2 separate regions of the Homo sapiens genome follow, and region 2 is linked to region 1. Evidence: fine-mapped expression QTL. A gene starts in region 1. The other region holds a variant in brackets. All regions are shown on one strand. Distances are between the middles of the regions. Region 1 holds the start of SMARCB1 (SWI/SNF related BAF chromatin remodeling complex subunit B1). Region 2 overlaps SMARCB1 (SWI/SNF related BAF chromatin remodeling complex subunit B1).

Evidence for each region.
Region 2: its variant is fine-mapped to the expression of SMARCB1 in whole blood (INTERVAL, PIP above 0.99).

The regions. Positions count from the first base shown.
Region 1 is chr22:23,781,711-23,790,158 of GRCh38, forward strand. SMARCB1 (SWI/SNF related BAF chromatin remodeling complex subunit B1) reads left to right here and starts at 5,256. Exons shown (of 9, transcript NM_003073.5): 1 at 5,256-5,552. The coding sequence starts at 5,460. MMP11 (matrix metallopeptidase 11) reads left to right here. Exons shown (of 8, transcript NM_005940.5): 7 at 516-773; 8 at 1,701-2,606. The coding sequence ends at 1,834.
Region 2 is chr22:23,817,351-23,825,519 of GRCh38, forward strand. SMARCB1 (SWI/SNF related BAF chromatin remodeling complex subunit B1) reads left to right here. Exons shown (of 9, transcript NM_003073.5): 7 at 7,875-8,065. Among named protein-coding and RNA genes, the nearest start is that of DERL3, 18 kb to the right of the region's middle. RefSeq lists enhancers at 7,333-7,866, 7,867-8,169. The variant TTGTC/T (reference allele first, on the strand shown) is at 3,283.

The sequences.
Region 1 (8,448 bases):
GAGGCAGTGAAGTGACTCACTGTGAGTGCAGCTGGGAAGAGGCAGGGCAGGGAATTGATCCAGGTCTATCATCCTAGAGCTGGGATTTCCATCCTCAACTGGCAGAGATGAGAGCCTGGAGCATTGCAGATGCCAGGGACTTCACAAATGAAGGCACAGCATGGGAAACCTGCGTGGGTTCCAGGGCAGTCCAGCCTGCAGGGGCCCAGGGAGTGGTCAGTAGGCATTTGTCACAGCCAAATGCCAGTGGAAGGAGCAGCCGCCCAGGCAGCCCTCTACTGATGAGAGTAACCTCACCCGTGCACTAGTTTACAGAGCATTCACTGCCCCAGCTTATCCCAGGCCTCCCGCTTCCCTCTGCGGGTGGGGTGCTGAGCAGGCATTATTGGCCTGCATGTTTTACTGATGAGGAAACTGAGGCTGGGAGAGTCTGTGGTAGGGGTCAAGCAGGTCCACAGTGGCGGGGCATGGCAGTGGTGGCTGGGCAGGTCCTTGCAGCCTTCCCTCTCCGGCAGGTGCTCAGTACTGGGTGTACGACGGTGAAAAGCCAGTCCTGGGCCCCGCACCCCTCACCGAGCTGGGCCTGGTGAGGTTCCCGGTCCATGCTGCCTTGGTCTGGGGTCCCGAGAAGAACAAGATCTACTTCTTCCGAGGCAGGGACTACTGGCGTTTCCACCCCAGCACCCGGCGTGTAGACAGTCCCGTGCCCCGCAGGGCCACTGACTGGAGAGGGGTGCCCTCTGAGATCGACGCTGCCTTCCAGGATGCTGATGGTGCGTTGGGGGTGAGGCAGCTGGTGGGAGGTGGGCACAGCAGCCGCTTCTCCCACCTGGTGGTGGCTGGGCTCCCACATGCCTGCCACAGGAAGTCTGGCTCTTCATCACAGGTCCTTTGTCCAGAGCCATCTGCCCTCCTCTCGGTGGCCGGCTAGTGCTACATTCCATATTGCAGATGAGGAAACTGAGGGTCAGAGAAGTGCAAGGTCTTACCCTGGTTTTTCAGCCACAGCCAGTAGAACAATAAACTGCTGTACACTGAGGGCCAACAATGCTCTAAGCTCCTTACTGGTCTCATCCAGTTCTCAGAACAGCCCTCTGATGTGACACCTGTTGTGAACCCAGTTTCCAGAGGAGCAAACAGAGGCTCAGGCAATGAGGCCCCTAACCTGGACTACCCTGGTGGTCCCTGCTCCTAACCACTGACCCACCCAGCCTCCCACAACCACAGGGGGCTAGAGCCAGTCCAGTGCTCCCTCCCCTGCTAGGCTCCTCTTCTGTGCTCTTTCTCCCACATCAGGACCCACTGGGAGAGCTATCCTAGGGTAGCCTCCAGCTCCAGGACTCCAGGGTGCCCGTCAATAGCCTGGCTAATTTAATAGATGCAGGAGAGAGTGATGTGGAGGGTGGTGGGGGCAACGGGACTTGCTTTCCTGAGAGGTGGGACTCAGGCCTCTGAGGCTCTGGGTACCTGTCAGGCTGGGTATTAGCCCAGCCCAGATTCCGGGGCAGGCAGAAGGGCTCCCTAGAGGGAAGAGAGGTTCTGAAAGGCCGGCCCTGGATCCTGCAGGACTCGAGGAACTCAGCAGTGGCCAAGGGCTTCCCACTCAGCCCTCCCTTAGTGCCCATCCCTGGGCACAGCCTGACAGGCAGGAGTAGGGCCCAGTGTCCGCTCGCCCAGGCTTGACCACCTTCTCTTCTCAGGCTATGCCTACTTCCTGCGCGGCCGCCTCTACTGGAAGTTTGACCCTGTGAAGGTGAAGGCTCTGGAAGGCTTCCCCCGTCTCGTGGGTCCTGACTTCTTTGGCTGTGCCGAGCCTGCCAACACTTTCCTCTGACCATGGCTTGGATGCCCTCAGGGGTGCTGACCCCTGCCAGGCCACGAATATCAGGCTAGAGACCCATGGCCATCTTTGTGGCTGTGGGCACCAGGCATGGGACTGAGCCCATGTCTCCTCAGGGGGATGGGGTGGGGTACAACCACCATGACAACTGCCGGGAGGGCCACGCAGGTCGTGGTCACCTGCCAGCGACTGTCTCAGACTGGGCAGGGAGGCTTTGGCATGACTTAAGAGGAAGGGCAGTCTTGGGCCCGCTATGCAGGTCCTGGCAAACCTGGCTGCCCTGTCTCCATCCCTGTCCCTCAGGGTAGCACCATGGCAGGACTGGGGGAACTGGAGTGTCCTTGCTGTATCCCTGTTGTGAGGTTCCTTCCAGGGGCTGGCACTGAAGCAAGGGTGCTGGGGCCCCATGGCCTTCAGCCCTGGCTGAGCAACTGGGCTGTAGGGCAGGGCCACTTCCTGAGGTCAGGTCTTGGTAGGTGCCTGCATCTGTCTGCCTTCTGGCTGACAATCCTGGAAATCTGTTCTCCAGAATCCAGGCCAAAAAGTTCACAGTCAAATGGGGAGGGGTATTCTTCATGCAGGAGACCCCAGGCCCTGGAGGCTGCAACATACCTCAATCCTGTCCCAGGCCGGATCCTCCTGAAGCCCTTTTCGCAGCACTGCTATCCTCCAAAGCCATTGTAAATGTGTGTACAGTGTGTATAAACCTTCTTCTTCTTTTTTTTTTTTTAAACTGAGGATTGTCATTAAACACAGTTGTTTTCTACCTGCCTGCTTGGTCTCCTTTTGTGAATGTTCAGCCAGGATGGGGAGGCCTGGCCACTGTCCAGCCCTATCCTGGGAGCCAGGGTCGAAGTCCACCACCCCCAAGCCTCTGGCCCTTGGGGCTGGGCACAGTGCTCAGGGCTCCTTCTGCTCCATTTCTACATCACATTTTGCTACAGTGGCTTCTTAACTGGCTCCCCACTTTCCTACTTGTCCCCTCTGTTCATCCTCCAGAGTGGTGGTTTATCTGCTCATGCCACAGCCCAGCCTGCCATACATAGCTGTGGTTTCTGCATCCGTAGGCTCAACTAACCTCGGGTAGAAAAAACAATGTTTAAAAAAAGGATGCGGACGGGCGCAGTGGCTCGTGCCTGTAATCCCAGTTCTTTGGGAGGCCGAGGTGTGTGGATCACCTGAGGTCAGAAGTTTGAGACCAGTCTGGCCAACATGGTGAAAACCCATCTCTACTAAATATACAAAAATTAGTTGGGTGTGGTGGCTCATGCCTGTAATCCCAGCTACTTGGGAGGCTGAGGCAGGAGAATCACTTGAACGTGGAGGCAGAGGTTACAGTGAGCTGAGATAGTGCCATTGCACTCCAGCCTGGGTGACAAGAGCAAAATTCCGTCTAAAAAAATAATAAAGTAAATAAATAGGCTGGGTGCAGTGGCTCATGCCTGTAATCCCAGCACTTTGGGAGGCTGAGGCCAGCAGATCACGAGGTCGGGAGATCGAGACCATCCTGGCTAACACCATGAAACCCCGTCTCTACTAAAAATACAAAAAATTAGCCAGGCGTGGTGGCGGGCGCCTGTAGTCCCAGCTACTCGGAAGGCTGAGGCAGGAGAATGGCGTGAACCCAGGAGGCGGTGCTTGCAGTGAGCCCAGATCATGCCACTGCACTCCAGCCTGGACGACAGAGCAAGACTCTGTCTCAATAAAATAAGTAAATAAATAAATAAATAAATAAATAAATAAGGGATGGTTACCTCTGTACTGAACATGTACGGACTTTTTTCCCTATCATTGTTCCCTAAACAATAGTATAACAACTATTTATATAACATTTGCATTGTATTAGGTAGTATAAGGAATCTAGAGATGATTTAAGGTATACAGGAAAGTGTGTGTAGGTTATATGCAAGTATGACACCATTTTATATAATGGACTTGAGCATCTGTGGACTTTATTATCTGCAGGGGGTCCTGGAACCAATTCCCATGGATACTGAGGGATGACTGTACTTTGGTTTCCCACCACTGTGAGGATACAGAACAAAGCAACTTCAGTCACTGCCCTTCCCAACTCTCCAGTGTCTCCTTGCCCTACCTTCCAGCCCCATGTGTGTCTTCGTAATAGCATAGTTGCATTTTTTTTTTTTTTAAGAGAGGCAGGGTCTCCCTTTGTTGCCCAGGCTGCAGTGCAGTGGTGCAATCAGCTCACTATAACCTTGAACTCCTGGGCTCAAGGGATCTTCCCCTCTCCACTTCCCAAGTAGCTGGGGCTACAGGTGCACACCGCCATGCCACACCCAGCTTATTTATTTTAGAATTTTTGTAGAGACAGGGTCTTGCTGTCTTGTCCAGTCTGGTCTCAAACTCCTGGCTTCAAGTGATCCTCCCTGCCTTGGCCTCCTAAAGAGTTGGGATTACAAGGCCGGGCGCAGTGGCTCACACCTGTAATCCCAGCACTTTGGGAGGCCGAGGGGGGCGGATCACGAGGTCAGGAGATCGAGACCATCCTGGCTAACATGGTGAAACCCTGTCTCTACTAAAAATACAAAAAATTAGCTGGGCGTGGTGGCGGGTGCCTGTAGTCCCAGCTACTTGGGAGGCTGAGGCAGGAGACTCCAGCCTCAAAAAAAAAAAAAAGAGTTGGGATTACAGGCATGAGCCGCTGAGCCCAGCCACAGCTGCAATTTCATTAGATTGAACGGTGTGAAATCATCAGTAGTGGGCCACTGTTTTACTCCCTGCATTATTCAATCATGATTGCTTTCAGACTTTCATTAGTTTCACTAGCTTCGCGCTGTAAGAGCCAAGAGGCAGAGCCACAGGGCTGGGCTGCCTGGTTTCACTCCCCACTGCAGGGCTCGGTTAAGCAGAGTGTAGGCTAAGAGAGGAATGGAGAAGGTGGAAGGTGTCTCTCCCTTCCAACGCTCATCTGATGCACCAGCCAAACCAAATACCACCTGGGCCTTTGAACATTGCCAAGCCTCATCCGCTGTTGTCATTTTGCCCACCTCCACAGCTGCAGGGACAGCCGTAGGCCCGGAACTGGGATATCTCTTCCTAGGGGCCTGCCTATCTGCTCAGCTGCACTGCGTTTTAGGGGTGGGGAAGCTAAGGCACGAGATTGGGGTCCCAAAGCATGCCCAGACCACCCAGGCTTCCAGATACTAGGTCCTCCTCCTTCAGGCCTCACTTCGTTGCTTTTCCCCTGGGCTCAGTTCCAGTCCTGGCTGTAAGACTGGGAAAGCCACTGCTTGAGTCAGGACCTCATTGGCTATTTTTGTCCGTGAGAAGTCCTCTACACCACGACTTGGGAGGCAGCCTGGGAGAAAGAGAAATTAGTCGTGGCTCCTTTAAGGGGTCCGCGGAGGCGCGCCCGGCCTTTTGTTTGAGCGGCGGCGCGCGCGTCAGCGTCAACGCCAGCGCCTGCGCACTGAGGGCGGCCTGGTCGTCGTCTGCGGCGGCGGCGGCGGCTGAGGAGCCCGGCTGAGGCGCCAGTACCCGGCCCGGTCCGCATTTCGCCTTCCGGCTTCGGTTTCCCTCGGCCCAGCACGCCCCGGCCCCGCCCCAGCCCTCCTGATCCCTCGCAGCCCGGCTCCGGCCGCCCGCCTCTGCCGCCGCAATGATGATGATGGCGCTGAGCAAGACCTTCGGGCAGAAGCCCGTGAAGTTCCAGCTGGAGGACGACGGCGAGTTCTACATGATCGGCTCCGAGGTAGCCCGGGGCGCGTTCTCGCCCTCCCCGGGCTCGGCCCCGCGGGAGCCCCGGGGCGGGCCCATGCGCCGAGAGCGCGCGTCTCCATTCATCGGGGCGGGCGGGCGCGCGCGCGCGCGCTCGGGGCTGTGGGGCGTGGCCTAGTGGGCGTGTCGGGTGTGGCCCCCGCCCCCTCATCGACCTGGGATTTCCTTACTTATTTCGCCGAGGTCCGCCGCCTTCAGTGCTGCCAAGATTTTGGCGCCGCGAGGGGCCCCAGTGGTTCCGCGCTGGGTTGGTTTCCAGTCAGACGCAAAGAAACGGGATATTGAGTTAGCCCCTGCGACGCTTGGGGGACTGCACTGCTGCCTTTGACCCTTTTTAGATGTCGTAAATTTCACGTGCACCCCTCCCCGTATTGCTACTTGTGGGAACCTCAAATGGCAGGCTGGAAACCCTGGACTTAGTGAGGGCTCATCCCCATTGTGTTTGTTGCCTCTTAGGTGAGCAGTGGAGGTCTTTTGACCTTTGTTTACCGGTGAAGAAACAGATTGGAGGAAGATGTTTGCTTTTGGGTGAATAAGGGCCCCATGCCTAAGCTAGATCTTTCAGCAGTTCTGAAGCGATTGACACTTTCCATATCTGTGAACTGATTCTGAATTATTACAGGGGAAAGAGCCTAAGGATGTTTAACCCTTAACTAGAGTGGCTGCATTTTGTTGCATCAACTGGATGACTGACTTCAGGAAAACTCTACTGGCCTTTGAATGGGTGTTTGTTCCAAGTCTATTAGGTTCTTGTTTTTTGTTTTTTATAGAGACAGGGTCTGGCTATGTTGCGCAGGCAGGTCTCCAACTCCTGGGCTCAAGCAGTCTGCCCGTCTGGGTCTCCCAAAGTGCTAGGATTACAGGCATGAGCCACCACACCCGGCCATATATTAGGTTTTTACAGATTGTCTCAAACTAGCCTTTTTTGCTCCAAAGGCAGTCCCCAGCTAGTATATGTTACCTTTTTAAAAAAATTATGGATATACAGTTCAGATGTACAAATGTCAAGCAGTAGAATCTCATGTAAGGAAGTAAGTGCCAATCCTGGAGAATTAAAGCTATCATGAAATGCCAAGAGTTTCTTCTCCTTATAGCAGTTTTTAGTATCATATTCCAGCATTTTATTCGTACTTTATTTTCTTTTATTTTTGAAAAAAGATCTCACTTTGTGCAGTGGTGTGATCTCGGCTCACTGCAGCCTTGACCTCCTGGGCTCAAGCGATCCTCCTGCCTCAGCCTCCCAAGTACCTGGGACTACAGGTGTGCACCACCGTGCCCGACTAATTTTTGTATTTTTTGTAGAGACAGGGTTTTGCCATGTTGCCCAGGCTGGTCTTGAACTCCTGGGCTCAAGTGATCCTTGCACCTCAGCCTCTCAAAGTGCTGGAATGACAGGTGTGAGCTACTGCACTCACACTCAGCGCATTCATACTTTTTAAACTTGTGGGTTTTATCCTTCACAATTGAGCATAGCATGAATGAATGAAGCCTCAAGATGGTCACACTGAGTCCCATGGATGAGACTAAGGTCAATAGCATCAGAACTTTAGTGTTAGCATTTTCCACCATTTTTTTTTTCTGGACGAGGTTTGACTCTATCACCCAGGCTGGAGTGTAGTGGTGTAATCTCGGCTCACTGCAACCTCCGCCTCCCAGGCTCAAGCCGTCCTCCCACCTCAGTCTCCCAAGTAGCTGGGACTACACGCACACACCACCACACCCGGCTAATTTTTATATTTTTAGTAAAGATGGGGTTTTACCATATTGTCCAGGCTGGTCTTAAACTTGTGAGCTCAAGTGATCTGCCCGCCTCGGCCTCCCAAAGTGCTCGATTATAGGCGTGAGCCACTGTGCCTGGCCTCCACTAATTTTTATAAAACAAAAAATATAGGATTCAATAAAATTTTCACGTTGTCACTTAAATTACAACTGTTCAAAGATGCCAGTGCTGGGGAGGTAGAGCCAGTGCCTGTCCATCTGCCACAGTTCAGAATGGTCCTCATTGGCCAGTAGGCACCTGCCTAACTGCAGAATGCAAAAGGTGTCAAATTTCAGCCTGTGATACTAGGCGAGTTGTTTACCTGATCTAATGGGTGTAAAAGTAATCAGTTTGGCTCTAAGTAGGTGACACTTCAAAAGAAAGCTTTCATTTATTAGTTGGAGCAAATTGAGAAGCTGTGCGTGGCCAAGTGGGAAGAACCTTGGGAGGCCTGGTTCCAGCCCTGCTCTGCCTTGCTGTCGTGTTTCTCATGTGTATAATGTGATGCTTAGACTAGATGGTCTCCAAGATCTTCCCCAAAACACATTTTAGTTTCTAGAAAGCTAATTACAGTCTTGTCTTTCAGCCCCTTGACTCCTGGGCCTCCCAGTAAGAATAATCTTCCTGAGACCCAGGCTGTAAGAGACTCAGTTGGAGAGGCAGTTTGTTCTTTTGGGCCTGACTTAATCATCAGACCTTCGGAGTTTAGGGAAGAGTTCAAGGTCAGAGCTCTATTGAAATTCAGTAGCTCCAGTGATAGTAGTGGATGGACGGTCTCAGCCCACTGCCCTGTGGAAAACAGGCACTGTATTCAGAGAGGTGGGCCAGCCATAGCAACATACCCAGTGCCTCCATGCGCCATCTGTGGAGCTGTCTTGGGAAGGCATCTGCATTTACTAAGAGTGTGTGTCACTGTTCTGCCATTAACAGACAGCTGTATTTACCAAGCCGGAGTCATGGAGCTTTGAGGACCCTAACAGATCCCCAAGTCCAGCACCTTGATTTTATATTCAGGAAACCTGGGTCCCAAGAGGGTGAAGGCTGGTTCAGAGGAAAGCCAGGAAGGCAAGCCCAGTTTCCTAAGTTCTGAAGGGGCTTTGGGGGGCATCTA
Region 2 (8,169 bases), 36 kb after region 1:
CAGTTGAGAAATGGTGAGGCTGGCGATTGGGCGCAGGCCTGCACCCTGCAGAGCCTATAGCATAATCCTTGCTGTGCTGAGCCGCCACTGCCAGACTATGCCTTGAGGGTGAGGGGAGCTTTGAAAATAGGAAGATATGAGAAGTAGGTGAAATTGGCACATGTGATGACCCTAAAAAGGTCAGTGGTTTGGTTAGATCTGATGCTGTGCCTTTGGCTTCCATTTTAGGAAAACATTGATGTATAAAAATAAGAGCCATGTTACAAAGGGTTCCTGAAAATAGTCTTTGGGGTCGAGGAGCCTCGGGAGGGATGCCTCCTGTGACTGAGGGATGCCTCTGCCCCGTGCACCAGATGGAGCCTGGGCCGACTTCTTCCCACTGTGGTTCTCCGTGGCACTTTACTAAGATTTTGGAAAATAACGTGGGGGAATCACCAGCAACTTCCTCTGTGGTCCCCCAAGTAACAAACAACTAAATATCTTATTTAGTTAGTCAAGACAGTCTCACTGTGTCGCCCAGGCTGGAGTGCAGTGGCTCGATCTTGACTCATTGCAACCTCCACCTCCCGGGTTCAAGCAATTCTCCTGTCTCAGCCTCCTGAGTAGCTAGGATTACAGTTGCCCGCCACTAAGCCAGGCTAATTTTTGTATTTTTAGTAGAGACAGGGTTTCACCATATTTGTCAGTCTGGTCTCAAACTCCTTACCTCAGGTGATCCACCCACCTCAGCCTCCCAAAGTGCTGGGATTACAGGCATGAGCCACCGCACCTGGCCGAAATACTTTGGGTGTGTGTGTGTGTGTGTGTGTGTGTGTGTGTGTGTGTCGCAGTCTCACTCTGTCGCCCAGGCTGGCTTGCAGTGTGCGATCTCAGCTCACTGCAAGCTCCGCCTCCTGGGTTCACACCATTCTCCTACCTCAGCCTCCCAAGTAGCTGGGACTACAGGCGCTTGCCACCACGCCTGGCTAATTTTTTGTATTTTTTATAGCAGAGACTGGGTTTCACCGCGTTAGCCAGGATGGTCTCGATCTCTGGACCTCGTGATCTGCCCACCTCGACCTCCCAGAGTGCTGGGATTACAGGCATGAGCCACCACACCTGGCCAATACTTTGTTTTCTTGATTAATATTTTAAAATTGTGGTAACATTCATAACATAAAATTTACCATTTTAACCACTTAAGTGTAAATTCAGTGGCAGTATATTCACATCCATGGCTGTGTAATTATCACCACCATCCATCTCCAGAATTCTATCATCATGTAAAACTGAAACTGTCCATCAAACACTAACTCCCCATTCCCCCTCCCCCCACCCCTGGCAAGCACCATTCTGCTTTCTGTCTCTATGAATTTGACTACTCGAGGTGTCTCATTTACATTCCTAAGGGAATCATGCAGTATTTGTCCTTTTGTGACTGGCTTATTTCACTTAGCAGAATGTCTTCAAGGTTCATTTATGTTGCACCATGTCAGAATTTCCTTCCCTTTTTAAAATGTATTTATTTTTAGACAGGGTCTTACTCTGTTGCCCAGGCTGGAGTGCAGTGGCGCAGTTATGGCTCACTGCAACCTCTGCTTCCTGGGCTCAAGTGATCCACCCGGTGCAGCCTCCTGAGTAGCTGGGAAGCTAGGACTACCGGCACACTCCACCACACCCGACTGATTTTTTGTATTTTTTTTGTAGAGATGGGGTTTCGCCATGTTGCCCAGGCTGGTCTCAAACTCCTGGGCTCAAGCCATCTGCCCACCTGAGCCTCCCAAAGTGCTGGGATTACAGGCGTGAGCCACTGCGCCCAGCCTCCTTTCTTATTAAGGCTAAATAATATTCTGTTGTATGGATCTATCACATTTTTATTTATTCATCCCTAAATGGACAGACACTTGGGTTGCTTCCACATTTTGGCTATTGTGAATAATGCTGCTATGAACCTGGGTGTGCAGGTATCTGTTGGTGTCCCTGTTTTCATTTATTCATTCATTCATTCATTCATTCATTTAGATGGAGTCTCACTCTGTTGCTCAGGCTGGAGTGCAGTGGCGCGATCTTGGCTCATGGCACTCCTGCCTCCCAGGTTCAAGCAATCTCCTGCTTCAGCTTCCTGAGTAGCTGGGATTACTGGCACCCACCACCATGCCCAGCTAATTTTTTTGGATTTTTAATAGAGACCGGGTTTCACCATGTTGGCCAGCCTGGTCTCAAACTCCGCCTCAGCCTCCCAAACTCAAATGATCTGCCCACCTCGGCCTCCTAAAGTGCTGGGATTATAGGTGTGAGCCCCTGTGTCTGGCCCCTGCTTTCATTTCTTTTGGGTGTATACCTAGAAATGGAATTCCTGGATCGTACAGTAATTCCATGTTTAGTTTTTTGAGGATCCACTATACTGCCTTTCTCGGTGGCTGCACCTTTTATATTCCTACCAGCAAGGCGCAGGGGTTCCAGTTTCTCCACATCCTCACTCACACTTGTTAGTTTTTCTTTTCTTTTCTTTTTCTAGACAGAGTCTCGCTCTGTTACCCAGGCTGGAGTGCAGTGGCATGATCTTGGCTCACTGCAACTTCCACCTCCTGGATTCAAGCGATTTTCCTGCTTCAGCCTCTCGAGGAGGAGCTGGGACTACAGGCGCATGCCACCACGCCCGGCTAAATTTTGTACTTTTAGTAGAGACGGGGTCTCATCATATTGACCAGGCTGGTCTCGAACTCCCGACCACAGGTGATCCACCTGCCTTGGCCTCCCAAAGGATTATAGACGTGAGCCACTGTGCCCGGCCAGTTTGCCAGCATTTTTTTGAGGATTTTTGCATCAACATTCATAAGGGGTGTAGGTCTGTAGTTTTCCTTTCTTGTAGTATTTTTTGTCTGACTTAGGTATCAGGGCAATGAGTTAAAGAATAGTTTGAGAAGGATTGGTGTTAGCTCCTATTTAAATGTTTGGTAGATGGCCGGGTGCAGTGGCTCACGCCTGTAATCCCAGCACTTTGGGAGACCGAGGCGGGCGGATCACCTGAGGTCGGGAGTTAGAGACTACCTGACCAACATGGTGAAACCCCGTCTCTACTAAAAATACAAAAATTAGCCGGGTATGGTGGCACACACCTGTAATCCCAGCTACTCAGGAGGCTGAGGCAAGAGAATTGCTTGAGCCCGGGAGGCGGAGGTTGCAGTGAGCCGAGATGGTGCCACTGCAGTCCAGCCTGGCTGACAGCGAGACTCTGACTCAGTCAGTCAATCAGTGTTTGGTAGAATTCACCAATGAAGCCATCAGGTCTAAGGCTTTTCT[TTGTC/T]AGGAAGATTTTATTATTGATTCAGTCTCTTTACTTGTTAATACCTTTTTGAGAGGAATACAAATTTGTTTCAGTTTCACATTATGGCCAGCTAGGAGGAAAAGAAGGGACAATGGTAGGAGAGAAGTGGGGTGGGGATGGGAGTGGCAGCAAGCACCTGGCCTGTGTCCTGCATACGGTCTGCTGGCTCTGGAGGGCAGCCCTGAGGGCTCCACTCTGTGCTTCTCTTTGTCTTGTAAACATGTGGAGGATGAGGCTGTGTGGGCTAACCCACCCAGCCACGTGGTTCCAAATGACTGGGATTGGCCACACAAGGGGCCTCATGAAGCCTGACTGGTAGCTTCCCTTAACGTTTTTCTCAGAATTGAGCCCATTTTCATTGTTGTTGTCTTGACGGGGCCTGCAGAGGAGCCATACAGGAAGTTGCCCAGCAGCTGTAATCCTCCTGGGGCTGTTCCCTGCCCCACCAGAAGAGGCTTCCCCAGTGACCCTCTGACTTACCTGTGATTCCCACCTGGGGGATGGTGGCAGCTGGCAGGTTGAGAGACTGTCCCCAGCCAGGTGTCCTGCTCTGCCCTTTGGGTCAGACCAGATGTCACAGGGTGGACACAGCTGGCCCAGGGAAGCCTGTGTTATGTGGGACAGACTGCATTTTTCAGGCCAGAGGCCTCCTGGGCACCGTGACCCTGGGAACAGTGTCCTGTCTTGCCCATGAGGAATAGAAGGTCACACCCAGGGTTTCCCATCTATAATTGGGACTCAGAAGAGCTGGGTATTTCTTTCTTCCTTCCTTTTTTTTCATGGCTCACTGCAGCCTTGACCTCCTGGGTTCAAGTTATCCTGCCATCTTGGCCTCCTGAGTAGTTGGAACTATAAGCACGTACCACCATGCCTGGCTAATTTTTAAATTTTCTGTAGGAAATGGAGTCTCGGCTGGGCACCGTGGCTCATGCCTGTAATCCTAAGACTTTGGAGAGCTGAGGTGGGCAGATTGCCTGAGCTCAGGAGTTCGAGACAAGCCTGGGCAACATGGTGAAACCCTGTCTCTACTAAAAATATAAAAAATTAGCTGGGCGTGGTGGCACGTTCCTGTAATCCCAGCTACTCTGGAGGCTGAGGCATGAGAATTGCTTGAACCTGGGAGGCGGAGGTTGCAGTGAGCCAAGATTGCGCCACTACACTCCAGCCTGGGCAACAGGCTCTTCCCATCTCACTGACTCTGTCTCAAAAAAAAAAAAAAGAAAAAAGAGAAAATGGAGTCTCACTTTGTTGTCCAGGCTGGTCTCGAACTCCTGGGCTCAAGCAACTCTTCCACCTTGGCCTCCCAAACTGCTGGGATTACAGACATGAACCACTGTGCCTGGCCAGAGCTGGGTGTTTCTGTAAGGACGTCCTTTGTCTTGATCCTGGAACATGACTGAAGGAAAACAAGAATCTTTGGAGCCATGGCACATGAGGACCATCTCTCTCCTCAGAAAGAGTGCCTTAGGTTAGAGCAGCATCTTCCAGATATTCTTGGCAATGCTGGGACCAAAGCCCAGGCCTGGCTGCCCTTGCCAGGGCACCTGGCCCAAGTCGGCTTTGCCCAGTTCCAGCAGGGGTTGGGGGGCAGGGGAGGAAGCTGGGGACATGGTGCTGCTGCAGTTTGAGCCATCAGACCCTGTGGCACTGTCCAGGCCCCGTCCAGAGAGTGCATGGGGTGAGATGTGAGTCAGGGCTGGGGAGGTGGGCAGGGGCCTGGCCCTGCTGTGCACCTGCTTGGGAGTCCTGGCCCCGTCTTAGCTCTGTGAGTCCACCTGGAGTCCAGCACTCCTCACTACCCCACCAAGGCCACTGCCAGATGGCTCCCTTCCTCCCTCCCCGCCTTCCAGTAGAGGTCTCAGCATGGCAGCTCAGCCCATGTCTCTTGTCTGCCCAAAATACCGCAGAAGCTTCCCACATCCCTCTGTGGAAGCCAAGCCTGTCCAAAGGCCTCAGGGCCCTAACTGCTCTCTGCTACAGTCCCTCGCCACCCTCATCTCCTCCCTTTTCCCCTCACTGGGCAGATCCGGGTACCAGACCTTGGCTCCTCAGTCTTTTACATCTCTGTGTCCCCCACCTGGGACTGTTCTCCCCCAGGGAGCCACATTCCTGCTCCCTGGGCACATTCACTTCTTCCTAAAGGCCACCTTCCTAGAAGCCTTCCTGGCCTCCTGACTTCTGAGGCCAGCCTGGACTTTCTCCCCCTCCCTCCCTTTCCTCCCTGGCACTCCCGTGCTTTCTGGTACACCACATGCTCACTTAACCTACTTAGTGTCTGTCAGTGCCCCCACCAGCATAGCTTTTTTTTTTTTTTTTTTTTTTTTTTTTTTTTTTTTTTTTTGACACAGAGTCTCGCTGTGTTGCCCAGGCTGGACTCAAACACCTGAGCTCCAGTGATCTTCCCACCTCAGCCTCCCAAGTAACTGAGACTACAGACATGTACCACCTCACCTTTCTCAGAACAGCCTTTTGAATGTTTGTCTCTCTTGTGCCTCTCCTTGGTAGACACACAGTCTAGACTTTGGAATAAATGAATGTGTTAGTGACTGAATGGCAGGGGACAGGCAACTCCATCCATGAGCCCAGGGCAGGGAGGGCTTGCTGGGTGGGAGCCATGTGCCTATGGTCCTATGGGGTCCTGTTGGGTGGTTCCATGGGCTGTCTGCTGCTGCACGTTCTTTTTGGACCCAGCACCCACGTGGTTTGCTTGGCATTAGATTCCAGTTGGGAAGGGCCAGTGCCTCCGATTCCATTCATCATCAGGCGTGGGCGTATGTGGAGATAGCAAAGGACATGGGGGCCCGACTGCAGTCCCCATTGCCTGGCTGCATGCCGTGTACAGGACACTGCAGCTCTGCCCTCGGCTTCCTCCCTCTGCGTGAGGATTCCTTCATTCCCAGAACAAATACACCCTGCCTGTGCTAGAATTCCTGGAGGCAAATGATTCAGATTGTTTCAGACAGTCCTAAGTGCTGTGAAGAAAATAGGAGAGGTGCCAGCATGGTGGCCCGCACGTATAGTCGCAGCTACTCAGGAGACTCTCGGGGGAGGATCTTTTGAGGCCAGCCTGGGCCAACACAGAGAGGCAGCAGGGAAGCCTGCGGGGAACAGAAGGCTCAACCACAGGGTCTCTTCTCTGCCCAAAACACTTGATACATTGCCTGGGCCTTGTAGAAACCTTGTCTCTACAAAATATTAGCCAGACATGGTAGTGCATGTCCGTAGTTCCAGCTACTCAGGAGGCTGAGGCAGAAGGGTCTCTTGAGCCCAGGAGTTCAAGGCTGTAGTGAGTCATGATCATGCCATTGCACTCCAGCCTGAGTGACAGAGTGACATCCTGTCTCCAAAGGGGGAGAAAATGGAGAGAAGGGTGTGGAAAGGGGCTGATGGGAAGGGGAGCTCTCAGGAGCTGGCACTTTAGCTTAGACCAGGATGCTGAGAAGAGGCTGGTCCTGCCAGGTGAGGGGAAGAGCATTCTAGCAAGTGGGTGGTGATGTGCAGGGCTCAGAGGCACAGGGCTTTATGAACATGATCGGGGATTGGGGTACCCTAATCTCTAAAAGGAGGCAGAAGTCCCCGGAAGGGCTGGACTCCGAGGCAGTGGTGAGTTTTCCCTGCAGCTGCCCACCCTGATCCTTGACTTAAAAGCTAAGGGCCAACAATGAATGGGCAGGTGCACTGTGACCTGGTTGCCCTGTGGAGCACTGGATAGCAGTGAGGGATGACCCCAGCCCCACACTCTAATGGGAGGAGTCTTGCAAGCATGATGCAGAGTGAATGAACCTGGACCCCGAAGTGTCCATCCTATTCAGAACAGCCACACCTACTCAAGGGGTGAGAAGTCAAAATGGTGCCTCCCCAGGGGGGCAGGTGTAGGTGGGAGCCCCTGGGGTACAGTCTGTGTTCTCTCAGCTGGGTGCTGGCTTCCCAGGTGTCCACTAGTGGAAAACCCCTGACAGCACACCCGGGGCCTGGGCCCTCTGGCTGTGAGTCACGTGCTGCAGGGAGTCCTCTGGGGAATGTGGAGGAGCTGGCCCAGCACTGTGATCCCTGCAGGCTTCCCTGTCCCCTCACCGTGTTGACCCAGAGTGGGGTGCATCTGTGAACACGCTAGGCAGGGTTTTCCGAGAGGGGCAAGCTCTGTAAAGGGCATAGACATTGGCTCAAGACAGGGCTTAGGGATGCCTTAGCTGAGCCCTGCCTTTCTGGTGTAGTCACGTAAGACCGATGGCAGCAGGAGCGAAGGGCAGAAAGGAAGGTCCCCACCAGCACAGGGCACAGGGGAGATGGGATGAAGGTAAGGTGGGACTCAGGTGCCCCCGGGGTCACTTCAGGGCCTCCCGAGGGTGACTGTGCTGGGCCCTGAGCCAGAGCCCCTCATGGCAGACAGGGTTGTGGGGTCAGCCTTGTTTTGGGGATGGGGAACTGGAAGGACAAGGACCACCTGCAGTTCTCAGCTGGTGGACCCTGGTGGGCAGGGCCCACCCCAGGCCTGGCAGGGCCCCGCTCCTCGCGGCCTCCCTGGGCTGCAAAAGCTCTAACTTGTGTCCTTTGGTTGTTGCCTCAGCTGAACATCCATGTGGGAAACATTTCCCTGGTGGACCAGTTTGAGTGGGACATGTCAGAGAAGGAGAACTCACCAGAGAAGTTTGCCCTGAAGCTGTGCTCGGAGCTGGGGTTGGGCGGGGAGTTTGTCACCACCATCGCATACAGCATCCGGGGACAGCTGAGCTGGCATCAGAAGACCTACGCCTTCAGGTAGGATCATGCATGAGTCTCTCCCTCCCTCATCTCCCTGCAAAACTGTTTTGAGAAAGACTTCTCTGTGTGAGCGGTGATACCTTTGAGGCTTTCTCACGCTT